Linked DNA regions of Homo sapiens. The protein of the gene in region 6 purifies or fractionates together with the protein of the main gene of each other region. This does not show direct contact. Each region holds a gene or a part of one and is shown on either strand. Other genes may lie near its edges. The genes, in order: SRRM1, CAPRIN1, PTPN12, TSR1, DHX15, DEK and BPTF.

Region 1 (3,500 bases), on a different chromosome or scaffold from region 6:
GATTTCTTGGTGAAGTCTAGAAGGGTAAAAGTTAACAGAAAAGTATCAATAAGATGAATTTCTCGTTTACTTTCCAACACCAGACTAGACACTTTTCATAACACGAACAACTGCATTACACTTCAAATGAAACAGACTCTTTAGAAGACATTGTCTAATATCACCTATCAGTTCTTTCTTCCAGGGGACACTAATTTACAGATTATCCTAAAAGAAAGATTATCCAGAAGTGTCAAACACTTGACACTTCCAAATTTAAAAAATCTTACCGTCTTACTGGAGATCTACTCCTTCTATGCCTTGGTGGAGGAGGCATTCTTCTTGGCGGAGTTCTTCTTCGAGGAGATGGCCGCCTTCTTGGGCTTGGCCGCCTTCTAGGTGAATACGATCTGCCATAACAAAGAGAATTAGGTCCTGAATAAACCAGGAGTGAGGAATTTCTTGGCTTAGTTTTCTCAATGGCCACATCTAAAAAATAAATTTCAAAGATCAAAATTTTCCATTTATGTAGATTTTTATGGTACACAGAAAAGTGTCCTCAAATTCTCTGTGTACATTCAAAAAATATTTGTACTAAACATCTTCTACCACTTTGAAATTATTTATCTAATTGTACCCAGTAGAGTAGTATATAAAACCTAAGATCTTTGTTGATCTTAAAGCCACAACTCACCTTGATCGGGATCTATGGCGCCGTCTAGGTCGAGTGTGAGAAGGAGAGCGGGACCGCGTCCGGGATCTTGATTTGGAGCGTGACCGAGATCGTGGTCGGGTCTTCTCCTTCTCCTTTTCTTTTTTGGAATTTTTTTCCGGAGAAGGTTCTTTAGGCTCTGGTATAGGTTCAGGTTTGGGAACTTTCAGAATGTCACTGTGGAAACAAAAGCTTTTTTTTTTTTTTTTGCCTTCTTGTACTCAGCCTTCTAAATCATTACACAATGATGTAATAAAGTATTTCTAAAACTTTTCAAAATTCACAGACTTGTCTCTATCTCCAAAAGACACATAAGTATGTATGTACCTATCACTGAAACCCAGAGAGCAACTAATAATTCCAACCATGTACATTTTCTTTTCTTCTTCTGAGACAGGGTCTCACTCTTGTCACTCAGGCTGGAGTGTACTGGCATGATTTTGGCTCACTGCAGCTTCAACCTCCCAGGCTCAAGTGATCCTCCTGAGTAGCTGGGACTATAGGCATGTGCCAACCATGCCCGGCTAATTTGTGTGTGTGTGTGTACATATATATATATATATATATATATATATATATATTTTTAGTACAGATGGAGTTTCACCATGTTGCCCCAGGCTGCTCTCTAACTTGTGAGCTCAAGCGATCCACCCACCTCAGCCTCCCCAAGTGCCGAGATTACAGGCATGCACCCCCGCATCTGGCAACCACATACATTTCTTAAAAGTGCGAAGTTGTCCACAATACGTTGAGGAAAAAAAGCAAGTTACAATATATAAAATACCTGAAACAATACAACCAAAAGATAGTAATGGTCACCCTCTGGGGCATTTTCTTCTAATATACTCTCCTAAACAATTTCTTTTCAACAAACTAATTTTATAATTTAAAAAATCTAAAAGGAAAATAAGTAGTTTTATTTTAACTCAGATGTCATATTTGCAGTCACTATTAATCTAAAATTGTGATTATTTATAAATGAATTTTTATATACTTGCCTAGTAGAAGTAGCCTCTTGTACTGAAGGTTCTTTTACTTTCACTGAAGGTTCTGGGAGCTCTGGAGTTTTTTCCTTCTTTTCTGGAGCAGGGGAAGGACTCCGGCTCTTGGTTCTGTGACGGGGAGATCGAGAATGACTGCGCTTTCTCTCTCTCCTGACAGGGGAAGATCGTCTTCTAGGGGAAGGAGATCTGGATTTGCGTCTAGGATGAAAGTAATTTTTTTCAGGTTTTTAAATAACATGGATTGGAAGAGAGGAGTCAAAGGGAGAAGTGAGGATTAATCTTTAGTTACACTACTGTTTATATCTGAGATGTTTCCCTATGGAAATAAGACATGCTAACCTAATCTACTTGACAGGGAAGAGAAAGACAAGCAAATGAAAGATAACATTCTCGAGTATATCAGTTATAAGGGAGAAAAGCACTAACTTGGGACTCTAGACTTAGGTTCTTAATCATTCCCAGAGATCAAAAGACCAACTTTTCAGAGGCAAAGAGGATGCTTTAAAGCAAACAATGATAATCCTTGACAACAAATCAAACTCCCAAACATAAAACATTTAGATGCGGACAGATTACAATGGAGTTCATCAGGAAGAGCCTCAGTATGCCAGAAAAATGACTAATACCATTAAAGCAACATGTTCTTCAGAAAAGAGAAATATACATCAAACATCCAGAAGATAGCTTTTTTGCGAGAGGAGAAGCCCTCTTTCTTAACAGTAGCCTGCCTAACTCGAAGGGTTTTTCTCTTATTCACACAGAAGGAAAATGGCAGACATACTTCATCAATAGTCAAGTAGTTACCACCATGACAATTTGTGCTTAGCTCTATAAATATTACTTCCATAAGGAGATTTTAGTATCAAATATATAAATGAAAGGGACAAAGAAATTACCTCTTCTCTTTACTAATTCCAGCAGACATTTATGAAAGAAATAAGCAGAACCCTAAAAATAAAAAGCCTAATGGAGTTCTCACCTTTCACCACAAATATAGAAGCTGAGCCGTGGATTTAAAAATGTGAACCTAACAATAGTCTCACTGGAAGAAGAAAACAAATAAATGATCTGAAGTTTGGGTTCAGTACAACCATCTAAGAAAAGCAGAACAGGGAATTAGGTAAGTATTACATGAACGGCTAATGAGTACAGATTTCGAGTACAGATTTCTTTTTAGAAGAAAGGAAATGGAAAGAAAAAGTGAGTCAGAGTACATTTTTAAAAACCCAAATTAACTGTTATGAACTAAAGCAATATGGAAGAAAAAGTTTAAAGTTTTGATTTAGGAATTTAGAGTTGGATAATTTATGAACATCTGCGAGACACTCATGGCTAAATTATCTGTCTCAAACAAAATATGACAGATTTCTTTAGTCCAGAGGCAAGGCACAGGTCACCATGAAAACTGCATGATGGAACAAATTCCTTGAATAGCGCTGTTAGATTCCTTTTTAACTAAGGAAGTTTCTTAAGACCTAAAGTACCTGTAAAACATCAGTTATGCATCTATTGTATGATACCTTCTTGGGCTACGAGACCGCTCCCTTTTTTCTCTGCTGCTTTCTTTTTCTTCCTTATCTCTTTTATCTTTGTCTTCATCTTGCTTTTTCATAGATGCCAGTTTTTCTTGTTCAATCTGCAAAGACCAGGTTTTCAAAATACACATAGTTGAACATTTGAGAACAAACTGAAGACTACTTTCTACGTGTGTTAAACACCAATGCTATTATCATTTCATCGGCCTCTTCTTTTGAACCAGACCTGTTCTTTCTTCACCTACACTACAGATACGCATTAAGACTGGT
Region 2 (3,500 bases), on a different chromosome or scaffold from region 6:
CAAAAAATAATTTGAACTAGTAAAAGGTCATTAGAACCTCCTTTTTTATTTTTTTACCTCTGAATCCATTGGCAGGGCCCCGGTATCCATTCATCAAGCCTCTAGCACCACGGGAGCCTCCACGAGACACACCACGACTATTGTAATAGGGCTGATTGCTACGTGGAAATCCAGTGTTCTGCTGAGGAGGCTGCTGGTGGTTACCAGTCACTTGATGGGACTGGTCTGGGGAACCATGGTAAGTGCCAACCACTATAATTTAAAAAAGAAAAAGATATATACATAAACAGCTCATTACCGTTTGTTCTCCCACGCACTTTCTAGTTTAAGAAGTGTCTTATACAGTCTCCTTAAAGTTTAATCCTTAAATTTGCATACAATGATAAGAAAAACTACACATGAATAAAGTCTCTTACCTTTCTCCTACCCTTAGACTCAGCTATTGGGGGTAAAATTCTCCAACCACAATTCCAAACCTTTGAAAGCAGGGTGCATGATTGATCCTTCCAAACAAATTATTTGAAAGGCTATATTAACGTCTTCTGAAAGGCATCTACTTTTTAGCACAAGAGACCCAAAATAACTCAAAAGATTTACTCTTAGTACATTACCATTTTGTACCATTTAATTACTTCTTTTCATTATAAAGCTCCTTAGTGGTAGAAGTTTTCTTATTCTTTTAAATATCCTTTTTTTTACTTAGTAAAACATACAAAACCACTCTCTCATATTTAAGCAGCTAGATGGTAGAATATGTCATCAACTACATAGTTTAATCAGCAGAGGCCTTCGACTTGTAGCCCTTAATGCCAAATTCCATTTCAAAGTATTTAAAATGGCAAGTATAGCCAATTTAGAAAACAATCACATGGTACTCACATTGGCACTCAACCCACTTGAAGGTTCTAGACTAAGGTACACACTAACATATATACAAGCTCCATCCACAATGGACAGAGTTCTAGAATCTAGAAATTTTCAAAAATTCAATACTACAGAACAATGTTTATAATTCAAAGAGGAGAAAAAAATAGGGTGCTAAAAGTACCTTTGGGAGGTGAGGAAGGCAACAGAACAAAGGAAGGCCCACACACTAACAACAAGGGTCAGAAGCTGCTGGCCAACCCAAATCTCCCCTTTTGGGGCAGAGAGAAAAGCAGCTGTATGACTCTTGAAAATCTTTACTTGACCTATTTTACACCCTTAAGAAACTCCAAATACATTAATAGTTGTTAGAATCCTATTTTACGATGAAAGCACTAGGGAATACCTAGAGAAAAAGAGAGAGCCACTGCTCCTCTTGAATTACTTAGTAAACCAACTACATCGGTGTCATCTTTTTACATAGATTGCCTTTTATTATATTCCCAAAATTTAAAATTGTAAGTGAATGACAAATACACATAACATTTTCCTTGTAAAATGGTTCATGTGTATCCATGTACAAAGTAGCCAAAAGAACTGAATTTTAGAATCATTTTATCAATAACAGCTTTTAATCTTGATCAAATCTCACTGTAAGAAATTCATAGCCAGGCTGGGTGTAGTGGCTCACACTGGTAATCCCAGCACTTTGGGAGGCCAAGCTGAGCAGATTACTTGAGCTCAGGAGTTTGAGACCAGCTGGGCAACACAGTGAGACCCCATCTCAACAACAACAACAACAACAAAATACAAAAAATTAGCCAGGCATGGTGGTGCATGCCTGTGGTCCCAGCTACTTGGGAGGCTGAGGTGAGAGGATGGCTTAAGCCTGGAAGGAAGAAGTTGTAGTGAGCCGAGATCGTACCACTGCACTCCAGCCTGGGAGACAAGAGCAAGACTCTGTCTCAAAAAATGAAAGGAAAAAGGAAAGGAAAGAAAGGAAGAAACTCACAGCATAATAACTTAAGTGTGATCTTTATTTTATTTAATTTTCACTTTTAAGACAAGGTCTAGCTCTCTCACCCAGTACTGCTGAGGTTGGAGTTCAGTCAAATAATCTTGGCTCACTGCAACCTTGAACTCCTGGGCTCAAGTGATCCTCCGGCCTTAGCCTCCTGAGTAGCTACAACTACAGGCATTCACCACCTCACCCTGCTAATTTCTGTATTTATTTTATAGAGGTGGGGCTCTGTGTTGCCCAGGCTGGTCTCAAACTCCTGGTCTCAAGTGGGCCTCCCAAAGAGCTGGGATTACAGGCGTGAGCCACCACACCCAGCCTTCATTTTATTTTAAAATACCCAAATTCCTACTTAAATTTTGGTAAAGTATAAACTTGTAGGCCATTTTAAAAAGCCAAAGATTCTGTCATGTTGTTCCTGATTAGACACTAATTCAAAATAAAATTTCTAAAATGATGGGACATACTGAAATGATTTCTTCAACAAATATCAGGCCGGGAATGGTGGCTCACGCCTGTAATCCCAGCACTTTGGAAGGCCGAGGCGGGTGGATCACCTGAGGCCTGAGGCAGGAGGCCGAGGCAGGAGAATCGCTTGAACCCAAGCGATTGAACCTAAGAGGCGGAGGTTGCAGTGAGCCGAGACTGCATCACTGCACTGGACAACGGCCCACAATGTATACATATTATTTCATCATGAACGCCTGGCCTCAAGCAATCCTGCCACCTCAGCCTCAAATGTAGCTGGGATTATAGGTGCCAGCCATGAAGCCCGCCCACAACGGACACACATTTCAACACATCATGCTGTATACCATAAATACACATATATATAGTTTCTACTTCTCAATTAAAAATAAACAAATGAACTTTTTTTAAAAAAATAGAAAAAGCAATCCATGTACTTATCAGTGGGAGAAAGTTTTCGGCAAGAAGGAAAGTAAGTATGAAGGCCCTGAGATTAAAGAGAACTTGCTGCGTATGTGACTGGTGTTCGAGACCAGCCTGGACAATATGGTGAAACCCTCTCTCTACTAAAAATACAAAAAAAAAAAAAATTAGCCAGGCATGGTGGCCTGTGCTACTTGGGAGACTGAGGTAGGAGGATCCCTTGAACCCAGAAGCAGAGGTTACAGTGAGCCATGGTGATCACACCACTAGTTTTTATCATTTGGAAGCTGAGCATAGTATAACTGATAACTTCTATCAGAGTATGGAAGATTCGAGCTTCATATTAGTGATACTGAATACTACAGGATGTGTAAGAATTTACTACTGAAAAATCTAATGCTGATCCAAGTTTACCAAGAAATTGAATAATTAGAAAATTTTACAACTTTTCAAAATCGGGCTGACAAAATGAAAGTATTAACTCCTCTGACTGCTGGTTTGTTGTGGGATTCCAATTAAATTCTGAGGAATTAAAGAACTAAAGAAGACATCATGGTGGCTCATGCCTATAAGGTAGAGGTGGGAGGACTGCTGGAGGCCCTGAGTTTGAGAAAAGCCTGCAGTCCAAGCTACTTGTGGGGAGTTAAAGGCTCCAGTACAGGATTTGAGCCCCAGAGTTAAAGGCTCCAGTATCTGATTACACCACTGCACTCCAACCTGGGCAACA
Region 3 (3,500 bases), on a different chromosome or scaffold from region 6:
AGCCTTCCTATACAAATGGATTTATGATTGAACAGGAAATTATTTTAACTAACTTATAAGAAGTCAAAGTGAAAGCAATTTCTTTATCTTTTAATTCTATAATTAAACATATTGTTTATTTTTAACTGGTCAATCCTACTTAATTAAATGGTCAACTAACCACTGAATTAACCACAGAAAAAAATAGTTTTAATGAACCAAGTTGTTAACTGATTCCCACATCTCCACCAGCAAGTTACTTTCCTGGCCCATGAATAAAAAGTAGCCCTTTTACTTCGTTAATTATGAGCATTACGGTCAAACCAAGTGAATAAGAAAACTATCTTCAATGCTTCAACTCCACTGAAAAAATATTTTAACTATGTAAATAATAAAAAATAAATCTCTTAAGTTTGAAAAATCTCATTTACTTTTTATAACAAATGTGAATGCAGATAACAAGTCCCTTAGAGGAATAAATTGATAGCAGTCTTATGAAGTAAGTACTATGACTGTAAGGCCTTTAGAAGAATCTAATGTAAACTAAAAATTCAGAGTAGAAAAACTGTCTAAGGATTCAAGTAGCTTCTACTATGTAGAAACCCATACCTATATAATGAAATTCCAAAAATTAGGTTTCAAAATATCCTGTATCACCCATATTATAATGATACCTATATTCTTTTTTTTTTTTTAAAAGATAGGGTCTACTATGTCACCCAGGCTGGAGTGCAGTAGTGTAATTGGTGTCTACTGCAGCCTCAAAGTTCTGGGCTCAAGCAATCATCCTGCCTCGGCCTCCCAAAGCACTGAGCCACTATACCCGGTCATGACACTTATTGCAAACATTTATTATTTTCTTGACTAATTCAGTTTTGTGCTTTTCCTCTTAAAGGGGTATTTTCCATTACACTCCTAAATCCATAATACAAATTTAGCTTTGTTTTATGTATTACATATAATGTATACATATACATATATGTGCATATGTATTATGTATATTTAGCTTTGTATTATTTGTATGAGAATGACCAGATGACAGAAATAAGCCAAAATGTTAGATTAAGAAAAGTTGGTTATCTTAAACTGATTTCTCTTAGCTAAAATATATTATACATTAACCCCCCTTCTAGAATACAAAATTAACTGCCCCCCAAGAATAAACAAATCTCATGTTCATTCCCCCAAAGTCAAAGGAAGAGTTTACATGATTTCTTAACACATCCAAACGAGTAATTTTGCAAAACCTAACTGAACTTCAAATATTATTTGAATAAATGAAAAGATTTATATTGTGCAATTTAAAGTAGGTGCACCTATACTTGTCCTTTCACATTCAGAGGTAGCTTAACTAGGTCAGTAATCATTGAATTTTATGTAATCCTTATAATGAAGTAATCTACTATAAAACATAATAAAAATGTCTAGTAAATGTGTATCAATAGTTTTTATTACTTTACTACAAGAATGCTTGCTTCCGGCTTTAAATTTTTCAGTAGCTATAAATTATAAAATTTCATGATATGACAGGAAGTGGTGCAAACGTGGAAACTGATGTTCCCCAAGAATAAAAACAGCATTTAGTTTTTCATCAAACTAAAACACACTTTTTCATCTCAATGTAACAGCTCTGAGATTGGTATGTATCTTACCACCAATGGCTTCTTACAAATGACATTGTCCCCTTATAATTGGCAGTGATTTTTTTACTGTTAATATATATAATAATGGTGTGTCTTAGAATTGATGATATCTTAGATCAATAAGACCTACGTATGTACATCTTACATATATTAAAAAAAGAAAGTCATGTTGCCAGGCGTAGTGGCTCACGCCTGTAAGCCCAAGACTCTGGGAGAGCAAAGTGGGAGAATCACTTGAGGACAGGAGTTCGGATCAGCCTGGGCAACAGAGCAAGACTTGGTCTCTTAAAAAAAATTTTTTTTAATTAAAAAAAATTAGTTCAGTGTGGTAGCACATGCCTGTAGTCCTAGCTACTTGGGAAGCTGAGGCAGAAGGATCACGTCAGGCCAGGAGTTTGAGTTTACAGTAAGCTATGATTGTGCCACTGCACTCCAACCTGGGCATCAGAGCAATATCCTGTTTTTAAAAATCTCATGTCAGTGTTTATCAGGAATGAAAATTGCTTGGTCATTGTTTCAGGGAAATTGATTAAAAGAAAATACTACCATACTGACTTTAGAAAGTAGAGTATGATGAGGATCTGAGATTATATGCTCTAATCAGTGAACAGTAAAAAGAGTATGTTCTATAGCTTCCCACCATGTGAATACTATTTTCAAATAGATGATCCTGTGTTTTAATGCAACAATACTCTAAACGGTCTGTCAACCAAATGAGACCACATCAACTTACAAGGCCCTAGTCCCAAACATTGTATCAAGGCTAGGAGAAATTCAAGATTACTAACATATTAATGCAGAAATAAAACCTTGTGTAACATCAAACTTAAATAATGTATTTATAAACTTGGGAAATTCTTTTGTACCTGCAATGAATACAAATAGGAACATCTTCATGTTCTTGATATTTCCTCATTAAGCTTATCATGTCCAGAATAGAATCAAATGATGAAGGAACATCATGGTCTGGCCAGTTCACATAATGAAACTGATACAGCCTACGAGATTCCTTCAAGAAAAACAGAAAGTCAACAATTATGAAAATACTTTGCAAAGTTTAAAGTTGCACAGCTCATTTAAACTGCCATTTCTAAGAAATTTGTGTGGCATTTAGCACTGCTTTTAAAAAAACCCAAATAAATAATAGCCAACACTTATTGACTGTTAAACACATGCCAAATACCTAAGGGCTTCACATGTAACAATTTAATTTCCATGAGGAAAGTACTGTTAATACCATCCTCATTTTATAACTGAGATATACAGATAAAATAACTTGCCCAAACTTTCCTAAGAAGTGACAAGTGTGGGCTCTAAACCAGGCAGTTCTACTTCCAGAGCATGTACTGTAAACATAACACTATATATACTATTTAACTAATCTACACTATTAAATGGATGAGCAATATACCGTAAGCACCATGTTAGAGTAGGTTAGAGTAGTATTCATTGTAATCAGAAGACTAACAGAACATTAAACTGAAAAAGAATGGAGAGATGAATTTGTCCAATGCCAAACTCACTAGTCTTCTTACAGATTAGTGGTTCTCAATATACGGTCTGGGTACCCCCTCCCCTCAACCCTTTTGAGGGAGTCTATGAGCTTTAAATAATTCTCAGAATAATACTAAAATGTTACGTGCCTTATTCTTTAACAGCCAATACAATATATGCTTATGTATTCATGTTTTTTAAAAATTTCTCAGTTTTAATTTCAAATATAGTATATACTGAAAGATACAACCCCCAGAAACAAAAACTTTGGGATCCTCAATAACTTTGAAGAATGTAAAGGAGTACTGATGTCAAATGTTTTGAGAATGGTTATTGCAGGTGTTTAACAGAAAGAGCAATACTCGGAATCTAAGCAAACCATAC
Region 4 (3,500 bases), on a different chromosome or scaffold from region 6:
TTACCCAACTATGAGCCATACCCAGCCTCCATTCCTTCACCCACACTGCCCTTGGCACACTAGACATCAAAGTTTCCACACTTTATCACACCCTTTTAAATTCTGAGAGACAGTGTCTCACTCTGCTATCTAGGCTAGACTGTATTTGGTGTTCTACCTTCAATGTAGCCCTCACCCCCCTTTTAAAAATACTAAACTTATAGGAAAATAAAATATTTTAAGGGCTGTGGTGTGAACACAGCTCACTGGAGCCTCAAACTCCTGGGCCCACTGGCTCAGGCAATCCCTCTTGCCTCAGCCTCCCAAGTAGCTGGGACTGCAAAGCACATGCCACCACACCTGGCTAATTAAAAAGAAAAATTTTTGGCCGGGCGCAGTGGCTCATGCCTGTAATCCCAGCACTTTGGGAGGCCAATGCGGGTGGATCACCTGAGGTCGGGAGTTTGAGACCAGCCTGGCCAAGATGGTGAAACTCTATCTCTACTAATAATAGAAAAATTAGCTAGGCATGGTGGTACACGCCTGTAATCCCAGCTGCTTGGGAGGCTGAGGCAGGAGAATCACTTGAACCTAGGAGGCAGAGGTTGCAGTGAGCCAAGATCCTGCCACTGCACTCCAGCCTGGGCAACAAGAGTGAAACTCCATCTCCCAAAAAAAAAAATTTTTTTTTCGTAGAGGCCGGGCATGTTGGCTCATCCCTATAAATCCCAGCACTTTGGGAGGCCAAGGCACGTGGATCACCTGAGGTCAAGAGTTTGAGAACAGACTGGCCAACTTGGTGAAACCCCATCTCTACTAAAAATACAAAAAGTAGCTGGGCGTGGTGGCAGACACCTATGGTCCGAGCTACTTGGGAGGCTGAGGCGCCAGAATCACTTGAACCTGGGACGGGGAGGCTGCAATGAGCTGAGATCATGTTACTGCACTCCAGCCTTGGTGACAGAGTTGGACTCTATATCAAAAAAAAAAAAAAAAAAATTGTAGAGACCGGAGTCTCACACTCCTGACCTCAAGCGATCCTCCTGCCTCAGTCTCTGCAACTGAGACTTTTATTTAGTTCCAGTTCTAAGGATCTGCCTTTACAAAATAAGCAAAGAAGTAAATAAAGTTTTATGCATACAGATCTAGTTTAGAGCAAAACATTAGAAATAGCCTAAGTGCTCACCCGTAGAAGCTCAAATAAGTATCAGTACATCACATACACTGGAATATATCCAAATGACAATAAAGCATTAAAAGTCTCATTAACTAATTAATCTTATGGAAAATTGATCAAAATCAATTAAGTGATAAATGCAATGTTTAACACCATATTTACAATTACAATCCAAATTGTGTAAAGAAAAAAAATGAGATCTGGATGAAAATGTATAAAATAAAAATGAATTTTCTCTAATATAAGGTAATTTTACTTTTACATTATTCCTTATTTTCCCAACTGTATAAAATATGAAAATAGTTCATCCTAAAAAAAAAAATCAAAACCATTTTGAAACAATAAAAGAATGACTGGCCAGGCGCAGTGGCTCACGCCTGTAATCCCAGCACTTTGGAAGGCCAAGGCAGGAGGATCGCCTAAGGTCGAGACCAGCCTGGCCAGCATGGTGAAACCCCGTCTCTACTAAAAATACAAAAATTAGCTAGGCGTGGTGGCGGGTGCCTGTAATCTCAGCTACTCGGGAAGCTGAGGCAGGAAAACTGATTGAACCTGGAAGGCAGAGGTTGCAGTGAGCCTGGATTGCACCATTGCACTCCAGTTGAGCATCAGAGTGAGACTCGGTCTCAAAAAAAAAAAAAAAAAAAAAGAGGCCAGGCACATTGGCTCATGTCTGTAATCCCAGCACTTTGGGAGACCGAGGTGGGCGGATCACCTGAGACCAGGAGTTCAAAACCAGCCTGAACTCCTGGTCTTGGTGAAACCCCATCTCTACTAAACCCCAACATGGTGAAACCCCATCTCTACTAAAAATACAAAAATTAGCTGGGCATGGTCGTGCATGCCTGTAGTCCCAACTACTCTACTCGGGAGGCTGAGGCAGGAGAATTGCTTGAACCCGGGAGGCGGAGGTTGCAGTGAGCCGAGATCACGCTATTGCACTCCAGCCTGGGCAACGGAGTAAGACTCCGTCTCCAAAAAAACAAACAAACAAACAAACAAAAAAAAACAAAAAAAACAAGAGGGGGCGCGGTGGCTCACACCTGTAATCCCAGCACTTTGGGAGGCTGAGGCGGGCGGCTCACGAGGTCAGGAGATAGAGACCATCCTGGCTAACACGGTGAAACCCCGTCTCTACTAAAAATACAAAAAATTAGCTGGGCATGGTGGCGGGCGCCTGTAGTCCCAGCTACTTGGGAGGCTGAGGCAGGAAAATGGTGTAAGTAAACCTGAGAGGCGGAGCTTGCAGTGAGCCTAGATCGCGCCACTGCACTCCAGCCTGGGCGACAGAGTGAGACTCCGTCTCAAAAAAAAAAAAAAAAAAAAAAAAAAAACAGAAACAAAAACAAGATTAAATCTTACCTTTTTTGGTCTTCAATTCCCCGTTCTAATGCCACAAGTGTTGGGATTACAGGTGTGAACCACTGCACCACTGCACCCACCCTAATACCCTTTTTATAAAGCTGCCAACTTCTATTCAAAACCTGCTATGGAACAAATACTCATGGCAAAAAAGCCTCAGTATCACACAGAAGTTGCATCACTGGGATGCTTCAGACAGGTTCAGACATTTTGAATAAAAACATCATTGGCTCTTAAGCCAGAGTACTGAAAATACCTCTAACCCAGAGATGTAAGATTTTGAAACCATATATTTTGGCACCCCTCCACCACAAGTCACTTTCCCAAAAGACAAGATGGACAAGAACCCAGCTTCCCCATTGCTAACCTGCAGTGTGCTGAGAGAATAAAGGTGAGGCTCGGAAGCGCCTGAATCCACAGTGAAATATGAGCTCTTCCTTGGCTTTCACAGGTTCAGTGTTGCCAGGGTCACGCCTCACCACCATATTCAATACTGACATCTGGGGACCAAGTAAGAAAAACAAAAATCTTCATAGTCTAGGAATACAATTGCCTAAACTGAAAGAAGGCAAACCAAACTAGCAGATTCAGACTCATTCTAAGAACTGACAATGCTAATTAATGGTGGAGTGTAGATGCTGAAACACGGGTTCATCCTTTACCTCCACCAATGACTGGCATTTAAGCCAAACACAGGCTGATCAGAGCTTTCATGCACCCTTCAATGCTAACCTACCTTCCTGCACCTAACAGAAAAGAGCTCAACATCTGCCACACAAAAATCAGTGGCCTTCAAGGCATTCACTCACCACAATCTCAAAACCACACTCATTCAAGCCCCTTCTTCTTGAGCCCTTACCAAAACCGATCAAAGAACTATCACATACCCCACAACATACACAACTACTGGCCACCAAGAGAAAAGAGATCTGCACTTTGGCATAAACTTTTTTTTTTTTTGACATAAGAGTTTCGCTCTTGT
Region 5 (3,500 bases), on a different chromosome or scaffold from region 6:
ATAATTTATATACTCTATTTCTTAACAGGTAGTTGTGTCAACTAACATAGCAGAGACGTCTTTGACAATAGATGGTGTGGTGTTTGTGATTGATCCTGGATTTGCGAAACAGAAGGTACATATTTAGTGGATACTTTATAAATTAGAGTTGGTTTAACAGTACTTACAACCAATTCATTTAATGGCTAAAATTTACCTTTCAGAATTATTTTCCTATCTTTTTTTTTATTTGCAAATTTCTGCTGTATGAACCCTTTATGTTTTGGCTGGCTCTCAGAAATTAAGACAGTATTTAATATGTAATTCTAGGCTTTTTTTTCTTTTAGAGTTGCTTTGCTTTCTTTGTTTCAGTGTAGTGACGGTGGGTGTTTTGGCTTGTATATTCATTTAACAGTATGGGTTTAGTAATAAAGTACAGGATTTCTATCCCTGCAGTTCAGTCACTTCTCCCAACATTATTAGAGTTACTGCTGTCAACTAGGCACACTATTTGAAAACAGTACTATGTTACTCCTCTAGTTTAACAGTGCTGTATACTAAATGAAGTGAAATGCAGGTGAAGTGGCTATTCAATAAATACGTTTTATTTTTCAAATATCTTTTGGATAAATTGATTACATTTTGTTATTGATGGAAATTTTTTCATTAAACAGTAACAGAGTAATAGTACTCAGACCGTCGAGTTTTGAAAGTGAAGGTTTCTTTTCGGGCAGAATCCTTGACTGCCCAGCATATAAAAAGCAAGGAACAAGGTCAGCCTGATAGAACTGAAATTAGGAGGAGTAAGGATTATATAAGCTGTGTGTTTGACAAGAAGTTTTTCATGTTAGAGTCTTTCAGATGATCGAATTAGAATGTCTGAAAGAACTTTAAGGTTCAGGATGGTGGGTTGTCTATTGTAGCAGCATGATTTATGGCTATCGATATTTCTTTATTTATTTTGGAATTAACTGTGGGCTTTGGATACTTCTGTTGCATCACAATTTTGTGTTTGACTGAAGAAAGACTCTTGTGTTATTTCAATTCCAATAGGTCTACAATCCTCGAATCAGAGTTGAGTCCCTTTTGGTGACAGCTATTAGTAAAGCTTCAGCTCAGCAAAGGGCTGGTCGAGCTGGACGTACCAGACCTGGAAAATGCTTCAGACTTTACACAGAGAAAGCTTATAAAACAGAAATGCAGGTATGGGGTATTGTCGTTTCCTGCCGATATGTTTAAAATGTTAGGTTGAATTATCTTACCAGAAGAACATTGCCTTATTTACTTAATCTTGCCTTTTAGGATTAAAAGCTCCTTAGCTTTTCCAGGAGTGAAATGTATGGTGTAATTAACTTAGATAGTCGTACACCCCCTTATTCCAGGCTGATACATTCCAAGACCCTCCCCCTCCCACGCCTAAAAACTGGAATATGCTGAACCTTACTTACATATACTATGTATAAATATCTTTCTTTACAATTTCACTGATAGAAGATGCATTCTTTCTTTAGATGTGATTTTTTTGCTCTTTTGTTACTAGGTTTCAACTTTTTTTCTTTCCTTACTAACTTTCAGCGTTTCACTTAAAGGAAGCACTTCAGGGCCTCTCATTGGCATATCCAAATTGCCAGCATCAATATTCTTGGCGCTTTGGGGCCATTATTAAGTAAAAGGTTACTTGAGCACAAGCACTGTGATACTGCAAAAGTTGATCTAATAACAGATGGTTGCTAAGTGACAAATGGGTGTATAGTGTATATAGCATACTACTAAGAATGGTGCACAATTTAAACTTGATGAATTTTTTCTGGAATCTTTAAAATTTTTTCTGTTGACACTGCTTAACTGAAACCATGGAAATTGCGAGTTCAGATGAGTGAAGACTACTATACGAATTTCTTTCTGCAGTTGCGAGTTTTATGGACAGTAGCAAACACTGAATACTATAAAGATAGTTGGAGAAAAATGGTTTCTCTCTAGTCTAGCCTACAAGTATTTATCTCTACTGAGACAGTGTAGAAGTAATGCCAAAACAAATAGCTCAGGAGGCAGCAGATTTTTGTTTTCTGGAACGAGGAGACTGAGGCATTTTTAACATAACCAATAAATGTTTTTGTTCTTTGCTAGGATAACACCTATCCTGAGATTTTGCGTTCTAATTTAGGATCAGTTGTGTTACAATTGAAGAAACTTGGTATTGATGACTTGGTACATTTTGATTTTATGGATCCACCAGGTATGACTTATCAAAACACATTTTTATCAGATCTTTTAACCAAAATTGACTCTTAGTGTTTTTCTCCATCCTATTTAATATATGTATTAAATACATTTTGCTTTTTCCATCCAGTATGCATCAAGATTAAGTCTTACATGATAGCATTAAAACTAAAAAAGGTGACAGTTATATGAGCACATTTTTTTTTTTTCTTCAAAAGTTATTATGGGGGGGTTTGGGTAAATTGAATTATCCTCTGGGCATGAAAATGTGAGAATTCCTAAGTTTTCTTTGGGGAAAAACAGTTTGATAAACACATTGATGAATTAGCAATTATTTAATGTATTTCGGAAGAAGACAGTTTTGCCTACAGGAAAATTTTGCAATGTTTTTATGATTCATTGTTTGCTAGATCTGTATAATTGAATTGGATGACAGTTTGAGTTTGAGTTTGGTCCACTGCAAAATGAAAAATGAGATTGCTTATAATAGTTTGTACTTTGTCACATTTTTGCTTGCTTAAGGCACCGTGTCTAATAGATTGTCTTTTACCACTAGCTCCTGAAACTCTGATGAGAGCCCTGGAACTTTTGAATTACCTGGCTGCTTTAAATGATGATGGAGATCTGACTGAATTGGGATCCATGATGGCAGAGTTTCCTCTAGATCCACAGCTCGCAAAAATGGTTATTGCAAGTTGTGACTACAACTGTTCTAATGAGGTCCTATCTATTACTGCTATGTTGTCAGGTAATAGAGGGAAAGGAACAAAAAAAAGCCCAGCTCTTCAAAGTTTGGGTGGACTTCACTTTTGTTTTTGTTTTTTAATTTTTAGTATGATAGTGGATTTTATAGATGGTTTTAAGGAATTAATTTTGTTTTCTAAATACCTTGTAAATAGCTTCGTAATGACATAGTGCTTACAAAAGTAAAGTAAGTCATTGTGCACAAAAGATAAGTAAAGCATTGGCTCTCTTGAGTGCTAATAAAAATTGCAGTAAGTTTGAGCACAGTTGTAACTGAATTCTTTGGTTAAAGGTCCATCACTGCTATCTTTGTGGTTTTTTTGTTTTTTGTTTTTTACTGCAAGTACAGGAAGAACTTTGCTCTAGTACTTAGCTCTATTAAGTGTGCCTGTGACAAACTGAAAGCTATACATTAAGTTGAGCCTTTTCTATATATGTACTCCAATGGCACCCGAACAAACATGAATTTCAAACTTCATATCAAGTAAATAGAAATAGTAATGTATAATTTTAGGCTTAAAATCTAATCTGATAATGGTATTCTTTTACAATGGTAG
Region 6 (3,500 bases):
AGTTCTAATGTCAAATACAGTGAAGATCAAAATAACTCATATTAAAAAAAGCTCTTGGGGTCCTCACTAATTTTTTAAGAGGGCAACAGTATCCTGAAACCAATAAATTGGAAAACCACTGAGAAAAAGATAAATATAAAAATATCTGTCATAACAACCTAGTAAATTGCTTCTGAGGAAATAGTGATCACCTTGCCTCACACTAAATCCTTAAAAAGTACAAGTATAGCTATAGTAAAAGTTAGAAAATAAGAAGTATTTTGTCTTTAAACAAGCCAATTTAAAACACCAAAAATCATCATACCCCTTGCGTTTGTAGTTGTATAACAAAAGTTTACACTTTAACTGCTGTTTATCTGTCCTCGTGCAGCTAATGGTAATAAGGACCAAGGGCGGACGAAAACGAAGTCCTAGAGCTATTTTCTGGTTTTGATTAATGCCATCTCCCATCAGAGATGGCATTCCCCTGAACTCCTAGGCCTGCTAGATCTCTCACACTTCCTTTCCTGTCAAGATGGGGAAGAATATAAAAACATTTGCTGACAGACCTAAATCACACTAAAAAGGCAAGGTCATGTAACACTTCAACAGACATTTTAAGTCACCTATGTCATTCGTTACCATTAAATAATTAGGGCAAACCTACTAGCTTTTAGGAAGAGTGAGAAAACTGTAAGGCCATTTTACTTCCCTGTCTGGCTCCTGGGCTCTGCTGCAGATTCTGGAAACCCAATATAGGAAACTTGTAAGAGTTAGCTTTTAAATGTCACTTTTTAATACTTTATTCCAGGATCTAGGAAAACATCCAGTTCTAATATACTCCCTATTTTGTCTTCACTTGATTACAGGTTGCACCCCTTCCCTCCAGCCTTGCACCTCATCCTCAGCCCAACCTCTTCCTATTCTTCCAGTGTCTTCTAGATACCTAACCCTGACTACTAGTACTTTCTGTCCCTTCTGACATTAATTCACTATTCTTAACCTTATATCCCTTGTATCTGATTTTCCGAAGCAACATACCCCTATGGCATCTATATTATTTCTATCAGGAAATTACTGCAGATACGTCAACAGAAGGTATAGTCTTTGAATGTAGATATGAACGAATACTGACAGCAATGCTGTTATTAATCAATTTTTGTTTCATATAAAGAGGCTATGAATAACTGATTTATGAAAAAAATAAAAATTGATCCTCACTTTGCCAGAAGGCTTTGGATGCATTAAGAAATTCAAGATCCTCTTCACTAGTTCACTATTTACACCTGATCTCTCCAAATCAAGAACCTCACAGATGCTCTTTAACATGGCATTTCTAAATCTGAAACAGAAAATGGAAGAAACCAAGGTGTTAATATAGGAAAGCTTACATATGTTCTCCACAATATAAAGGGAAAGCCAACCAAATTGGCTCAGTTACATACATTTAAAAAAGTGGCCAATGCTTCTATGAATCTTTTTTCTTTTTTTTTTTTTGAGACAGTTTCGCTCTTGTTGCCCAGGCTGGAGTGCAATGGCCCAATCTTGGCTCACCGCAACCTCCACCTCCCAGGTTCAAGCGATTCTCCTGCCTCAGCCTCCCAAGTAGCTGGGATTACAGGCATGCGCCACCACAGCCGGCTAATTTTGTATCTTTAGTGGAGACGGGGTTTCTCCATGTTGGTCAGGCTGGTCTCAAACTCCTGACCTCAGGTGATACGCCCGCCTCAGCCTCCCAAAGTGCTGGGATTACAGGTGTGAGCCACTGTGCCTGGCCCGAATGTGATTTAACATTAAAAAATAAACTTAAAGCATATTGATCAAAATACAGTATTTATAAAAATAACTTACTTTTTCAACATTTCTTCCTTCTTTTTATATTGGACACTTCCTTTTTCAAATGGAAAGCCACTGAACTGACCCACATTCTTCTTTAATGAGGACACCTGAAAATGTTCCTTATTATTAATGGTATTTATTACCCAGTAATGTACACAAGAATAAATTCAAAGCCAATTCAAAGTCAACATCTTTATTTTCATACCTGTCTGTAAGTTACAATACTGGCTGAACAGTCAACCAATTCAATATGGGTTCAATATTCAACATTTCTTATTCAAAACTGAAAAATGTATTTGTCATTAACATATTAACATTATAAAAATCCTACAAACTTAAGTCTCTGAAAAGAACAATTTGAACAAATTTTCACTGGGGAGTTTTTACCACAACCAAAAGTTACCTGACAGTACCAGGGGATGTGGAAAGTTACTATTTAAAAATATATCCTTTTCATAAGTAATAAAGTTACTAGTAATTCTTCTTTTCCAAATCAAGAAGGACTTTATTCTTTCAAAGTAAAGAATAGCGAGTACCACAAAAAGCTAATACCGTTCACTAGTTATGGGACTTGTGTAAATTAAATTGGTTTAAGGATTAAATGAGATTAACAGACTCACTGAAAATAAATTATGTCATGCACCAGACATTCTATTCTACTTCAGACATTCTAACACCCAACTTTACTTTGCCCACGTACAACCTAAAGCAGTTCCCTCGATTATATAATATACTAAGTCATATGTACAGTATAATAACAATCCTTTAGCAAAGAACTATCATCCAATTTATCAGGTATTTGCTAAAAATGAGATACAATTACACCAAATTCACTTTGTATGAGATTTGTATGAGATACAAATGATTTTGCCTCTTATTTGTATGAGATACAAATGAGATCATATGTATGATCTCATACAAATCATACCGACATTCACTTATTCTGAATGTCGAGAAAATCCAAAAACATGAATTTCTTTCAATACATTTAAAGGTCACTAAAACCTTTCATCACAATTTGGATTTCGTAATTTGAAATTTCAGTTTGGAATAAAAACTACTACAGGAGAAAGAGCCCTAGAGCTGGGCATACTGGCTCACACCTGTAATCCCAACACTTTGGGAGGCCAAGGTGGGAGGACCACTTGAGCTCAGGAGTTCAAGACCAGCCTGGGCACATGGCAAAACCCTGCCTCTACAAAAAGTAAAACAATTAGCCAGACACAGTATGGTGGCATGCACCTGTGGTCCCAGCTACTTGGGAGGCTTAAGCGGGAGGAACACTTGAGCCCAGGAGGTTGAGGCTGCAGTGAGCCATGTATTGCACACTGTACTCCAGCCTGGGTGACAAAGTGAGACCGTGTCTTAAAAGAAAGAAAAAAAAAAGAAAAAGAAAAAGAAAAAAGAAGACAGAGCCCTGGATATTATAATCCAAGTGCTAATATCCAGCTGTGTTTCCTGTGATAAATCATTTAATAAGTATATACCTCAGTCTGCTCAGTCATAAAGTGTGGAAATTGAACTAGTGGATCACTAACATTTACAGAAATTGATTCCATTGTGAAGTAATATACAAGTAGGTTTAAAGTGTAAAAAGGTCTTACAGTGCCTGGCCTGTTGTAAAGCAGTTTGTGTAGATTTCTAAGTTCATCGGTTTTCTTCTTACTTAGAAAAAAATGTAT
Region 7 (3,500 bases), on a different chromosome or scaffold from region 6:
TTACAACAACACTGAACCATAGCAATAATTTTATAAACAAGATACTGAGACATAAAGAAATTAACCACCTTGTTTGACAAACAGTAAGTAATACAGCTGAAATTTTAACCTGGCTATCCTTCTCCAAAGGCCGTATTTTTAACATTATGCTTTCTTCCCAGGAATGAATTTTAAAGAACTGTCCCTCGTCTCCCCTATACAAAGATTAGCGGATAGACAGACAGTGTAGTAATTCTCAGTTTATAGATACACAGTAAAGCTGGGTAATAATACATTTAAATATAATATATATGACCGTCATTTTCATAAGAATACTACATCTTTAAAATAACTTCGCTGTGTAAAAAGTGCTTCTACATTTATGACCTCATTTAATCATTGCAATAATCTCATGTGGCTGGAAAGAGAAGGGTTTTAAGAGGCTATAGCTAAGGAGGGATAAGTGAGTTTCACGGACTGTGAATGGGAGACCTAGGAACTGAATGAAGGTCTCACAACTTGGTAACACTTAAAATCCACATTCAAACTCCTGCCTAGTGCTGAGCGAAGCAAGCTATAGGTAGATGAAAAGATGGTTTCTGCCAGTAATGTTATCAGATGTTATATGTGTGACTTCACTTTAGTAGACTAATTCTAACTCATCTAAATTGCTTTATTTCACTAATGTGCCATTGCAAGATGTTGCTGGATGATGCCACTTTTTACTTAAGCTATGAAATAATATGTTTTCAAAAACTTTTTTACAAAGGTGTGGCTAGAAATGCAAATGAGTTTAATCTGTCTATAATTTGCATAGTCTACATGCAAACTAAGGAATGACAACTTTCAATAACTTTAAAGGAATTGCTATAATGTCTGAAGTGGCTTTAAAACTTAGTTAAACCCTCAAGTTTTATATTAAAGATTAAAGCTCATAACTCCATTCTTCCCATCTTAGTCCTCCCAAAATACAGGTCATTCCTAATAAGCACTGACTATATATTATATGTATCTAACGAAGTGTTCCACACCACAGTAGTCATTCAGTATTTTTTTTGGTCAATTCAGTGTTTCTTCTAAATTTAAACATTAATGACTTTGTCTCATTTAGGAAACCTAACACAACCAAACACTAATTCTACTGCACAGCACAATAATTCAAGCTACTGAACATGCTGCTTTTACTTAATAACTTTACCTGTTTCTGAATGATTTCACTTTGATTAGAAGCTTGGAGGGTGTGTTCACGCTTAATTTCTATCTGTTGCTGTTTCTTCTTTTGCTGCTGATCCCTGAGTTGCTGAACCCTTTGCAACTGCTCTTGCACACTGGCTGCCTGCACTGTAACCACATTCTGAATCTGGTGAGTCTGCACAGCACTGCTTTGCTGAATTTGGATAGGTAACTGGAGTTTGATTTGCTGGGGCACACCACTTTGCTGAGCCTGTATCTGAGCCACAACCTGTGACTGGATCTGAGAGAGAACCTGGACTTGTTGTTGCAGCTGAGGCACAGCAATGACTTGGGGCTGTGGCTGCTGTATTTGTAGCTGAGGACGGGATGGGGATGAAACAGTAACTTGATTTAAAGTTTGTCCTGATGAAAGAGTTTGAGTTGAAGACTGTACCTGGGGTTGTGACTGTGGCTGGCCTTGGGAAGGTATCTGAAGAGATGTATGTGGTTGAATTGGAATCGGTTGTGAGGTTGTAGTCTGAACCTGGGATTGTTGTCCAGGAGACAGTTGGGATGGAGTTGATGGACGTATTCGAGTCTGTGATGGACTTTGGACACGAACAGGAGACTGTCCTTGGACATTACTTTGAGGCTGAGACTGTGCTGCAACTTGGGGCTTGGATGACTGTGCGTGGGTGGGTTGTGCTTCAGAAGGGACATGGGATGAAACAGTTGTTTGGGTCTGAACTTCAGGCTGAGTCTGAACTTCAGGCTGAGCTGGGGACTGGGGCTGGGTTTGGGGCTGGGGCTGAGCTGAAGGCTGAGCAGTCTGTGGCTGGGCTTCTGCTGGACCCACACTTGATGACTGAGCTGGTGGCAGGGTTTTGTCTTGATGTACCTGCATCTGGGGTGACAGTTTACTCTGCCTTTGTTCACCTGTACCTGTAAAAAGGAAAGATGAACCATTTCTATTACTCTGGAACATAAAACTGTGGTTAAAGAAGAATCTGAAGGAAATCTTCTGAAGTTGAGAATTCTGGCCAGGCGTGGTGGCTCACACCTGTGCACCTTGGGACGTTGAGGTGGGAGGATCGTTTGAGCAACATAGTGAGACCCCGTCTCTACACAAAAACAAAAAAAATAAAAAATTATCTGAGCATAGTGGAGCATGGCTATGGTCCAAGCTACGTGGGAGGCTGAGGTGGGAGGATTGCTTGCGTCCAGGAGTTCAAGGCTACAGTAAGCAGTAATGGTGCTACTTCGCTTCAGCCTGGGCGACAGAGCAAGACCCTGTCTCGAAAAAATAAATAAAGTAAATAAAGTTGAGAATTTTGTATTTTGGTACAGAAGGTCTATGCCTTTGAAATGCTCCATTTGGACACGCTTAGGGCAGGACGCTCTGAAACTGGGAAGCCTGGGCCCTGCTTCTTGGCTGTCCCCTGTACACTCTCCTAACTCTAGAGGGCTGGTTTCCAAAGTAAGTTGCAGCCTCTGGAAATCAGCTGGGTCATCTGGCCCAGGCTAATTGCCACGCTTCACTTTTCTCCCATGATGTGGTGGTAGTTAGTTACAATGACTTGCAGCAGAAGGTCAACAAAGTGGTTCTGGACCCACTCTCAATCTGAGGTCATGAACTGGATTTACCCACCCTCCCTGAGATCACCTCCATGACTGAATCAGCACCTACAAGGCTTAGCAAGGAGTAAGTGTGGGCATAGTTACCAAGATAACCATTATTTTTGCCCCCTTTCTCTCTCTCTCTTTTTTAATAGGAGGGAGAGGGTGGTGGTAACAGGGAGTCTGTAAGAATAGGGTACAAAAGCTTCGAGACGTTGTGAGGCTGACTATGTCAACTGTTGAGGTCACTGGCTTGAGGCATATCCTTCCAAAGGTAAATACTGGTTCTCCTGTTGGCCTCTGTTAGCCCAGCCACGTGTAGTAGTAACATCCGACATTTCCGATAAACCCACAGCTCTACCTGCTGCTGTCGTGGAAACAGTGGTGGTGGTGGTGCTGGCTGTGGTGGCTGTTGTTGCCAATGGGGTAAAGAGGAATCGCTGAACAGTACCATTTGGCATTGCAGCTTGCATTAGCTGCTGGCCTGGGCCTGGGAGTACAGTCACCCCTTGAGGTATCAACTGCAACTGTCCAGTAGTTTGACCTTGTCCTTGAATTACTACTGTCAAACCTTGATTGCCACCCTGTGGAAAAAACACAACATGTAAACAGTGTTCAAAGCATCAATCTGTATGTATATCATTTTTATTAAATCATTTTTATGTGTAATTATCTTTTAATATAATGAAAATACATATTTGAATGTCACCAGCAGGAATTTAGATAAGCTA

What was found.
Region 1: the proteins of DEK (region 6) and SRRM1 purify together in Homo sapiens (affinity purification with western blotting; 2 studies listed by BioGRID, with this or other methods). This does not show direct contact.
Region 2: the proteins of DEK (region 6) and CAPRIN1 fractionate together in Homo sapiens (co-fractionation; one large-scale study listed by BioGRID). This does not show direct contact.
Region 3: the proteins of DEK (region 6) and PTPN12 fractionate together in Homo sapiens (co-fractionation; one large-scale study listed by BioGRID). This does not show direct contact.
Region 4: the proteins of DEK (region 6) and TSR1 fractionate together in Homo sapiens (co-fractionation; one large-scale study listed by BioGRID). This does not show direct contact.
Region 5: the proteins of DEK (region 6) and DHX15 fractionate together in Homo sapiens (co-fractionation; one large-scale study listed by BioGRID). This does not show direct contact.
Region 7: the proteins of DEK (region 6) and BPTF fractionate together in Homo sapiens (co-fractionation; one large-scale study listed by BioGRID). This does not show direct contact.

Annotation. Positions count from the first base shown.
Region 1 is NC_000001.11:24,649,802-24,653,301, reverse strand, and holds part of SRRM1 (serine/arginine repetitive matrix protein 1), read right to left. Parts: intron 3,332-3,500; coding exon 3,216-3,331; intron 1,894-3,215; coding exon 1,690-1,893; intron 869-1,689; coding exon 674-868; intron 390-673; coding exon 270-389; intron 1-269. UniProt on the Homo sapiens protein: Part of pre- and post-splicing multiprotein mRNP complexes. As a component of the minor spliceosome, involved in the splicing of U12-type introns in pre-mRNAs. Involved in numerous pre-mRNA processing events.
Region 2 is NC_000011.10:34,093,231-34,096,730, reverse strand, and holds part of CAPRIN1 (caprin-1), read right to left. Parts: intron 253-3,500; coding exon 58-252; intron 1-57. UniProt on the Homo sapiens protein: mRNA-binding protein that acts as a regulator of mRNAs transport, translation and/or stability, and which is involved in neurogenesis, synaptic plasticity in neurons and cell proliferation and migration in multiple cell types.
Region 3 is NC_000007.14:77,599,795-77,603,294, reverse strand, and holds part of PTPN12 (tyrosine-protein phosphatase non-receptor type 12), read right to left. Parts: intron 2,632-3,500; coding exon 2,489-2,631; intron 1-2,488. UniProt on the Homo sapiens protein: Dephosphorylates a range of proteins, and thereby regulates cellular signaling cascades. Dephosphorylates cellular tyrosine kinases, such as ERBB2 and PTK2B/PYK2, and thereby regulates signaling via ERBB2 and PTK2B/PYK2.
Region 4 is NC_000017.11:2,326,458-2,329,957, forward strand, and holds part of TSR1 (pre-rRNA-processing protein TSR1 homolog), read right to left. Parts: intron 3,019-3,500; coding exon 2,886-3,018; intron 2,754-2,885; exon of another isoform or gene 2,668-2,753; intron 1-2,667. UniProt on the Homo sapiens protein: Required during maturation of the 40S ribosomal subunit in the nucleolus.
Region 5 is NC_000004.12:24,539,555-24,543,054, reverse strand, and holds part of DHX15 (ATP-dependent RNA helicase DHX15), read left to right. Parts: intron 1-28; coding exon 29-115; intron 116-1,032; coding exon 1,033-1,182; intron 1,183-2,106; coding exon 2,107-2,215; intron 2,216-2,755; coding exon 2,756-2,947; intron 2,948-3,500.
Region 6 is NC_000006.12:18,254,531-18,258,030, forward strand, and holds part of DEK (protein DEK), read right to left. Parts: coding exon 3,423-3,500; intron 1,926-3,422; coding exon 1,831-1,925; intron 1,322-1,830; coding exon 1,201-1,321; intron 1-1,200. UniProt on the Homo sapiens protein: Involved in chromatin organization.
Region 7 is NC_000017.11:67,944,003-67,947,502, reverse strand, and holds part of BPTF (nucleosome-remodeling factor subunit BPTF), read right to left. Parts: intron 3,354-3,500; coding exon 3,131-3,353; coding exon of another isoform or gene 3,019-3,130; intron 2,095-3,018; coding exon 1,178-2,094; intron 1-1,177. UniProt on the Homo sapiens protein: Regulatory subunit of the ATP-dependent NURF-1 and NURF-5 ISWI chromatin remodeling complexes, which form ordered nucleosome arrays on chromatin and facilitate access to DNA during DNA-templated processes such as DNA replication, transcription, and repair.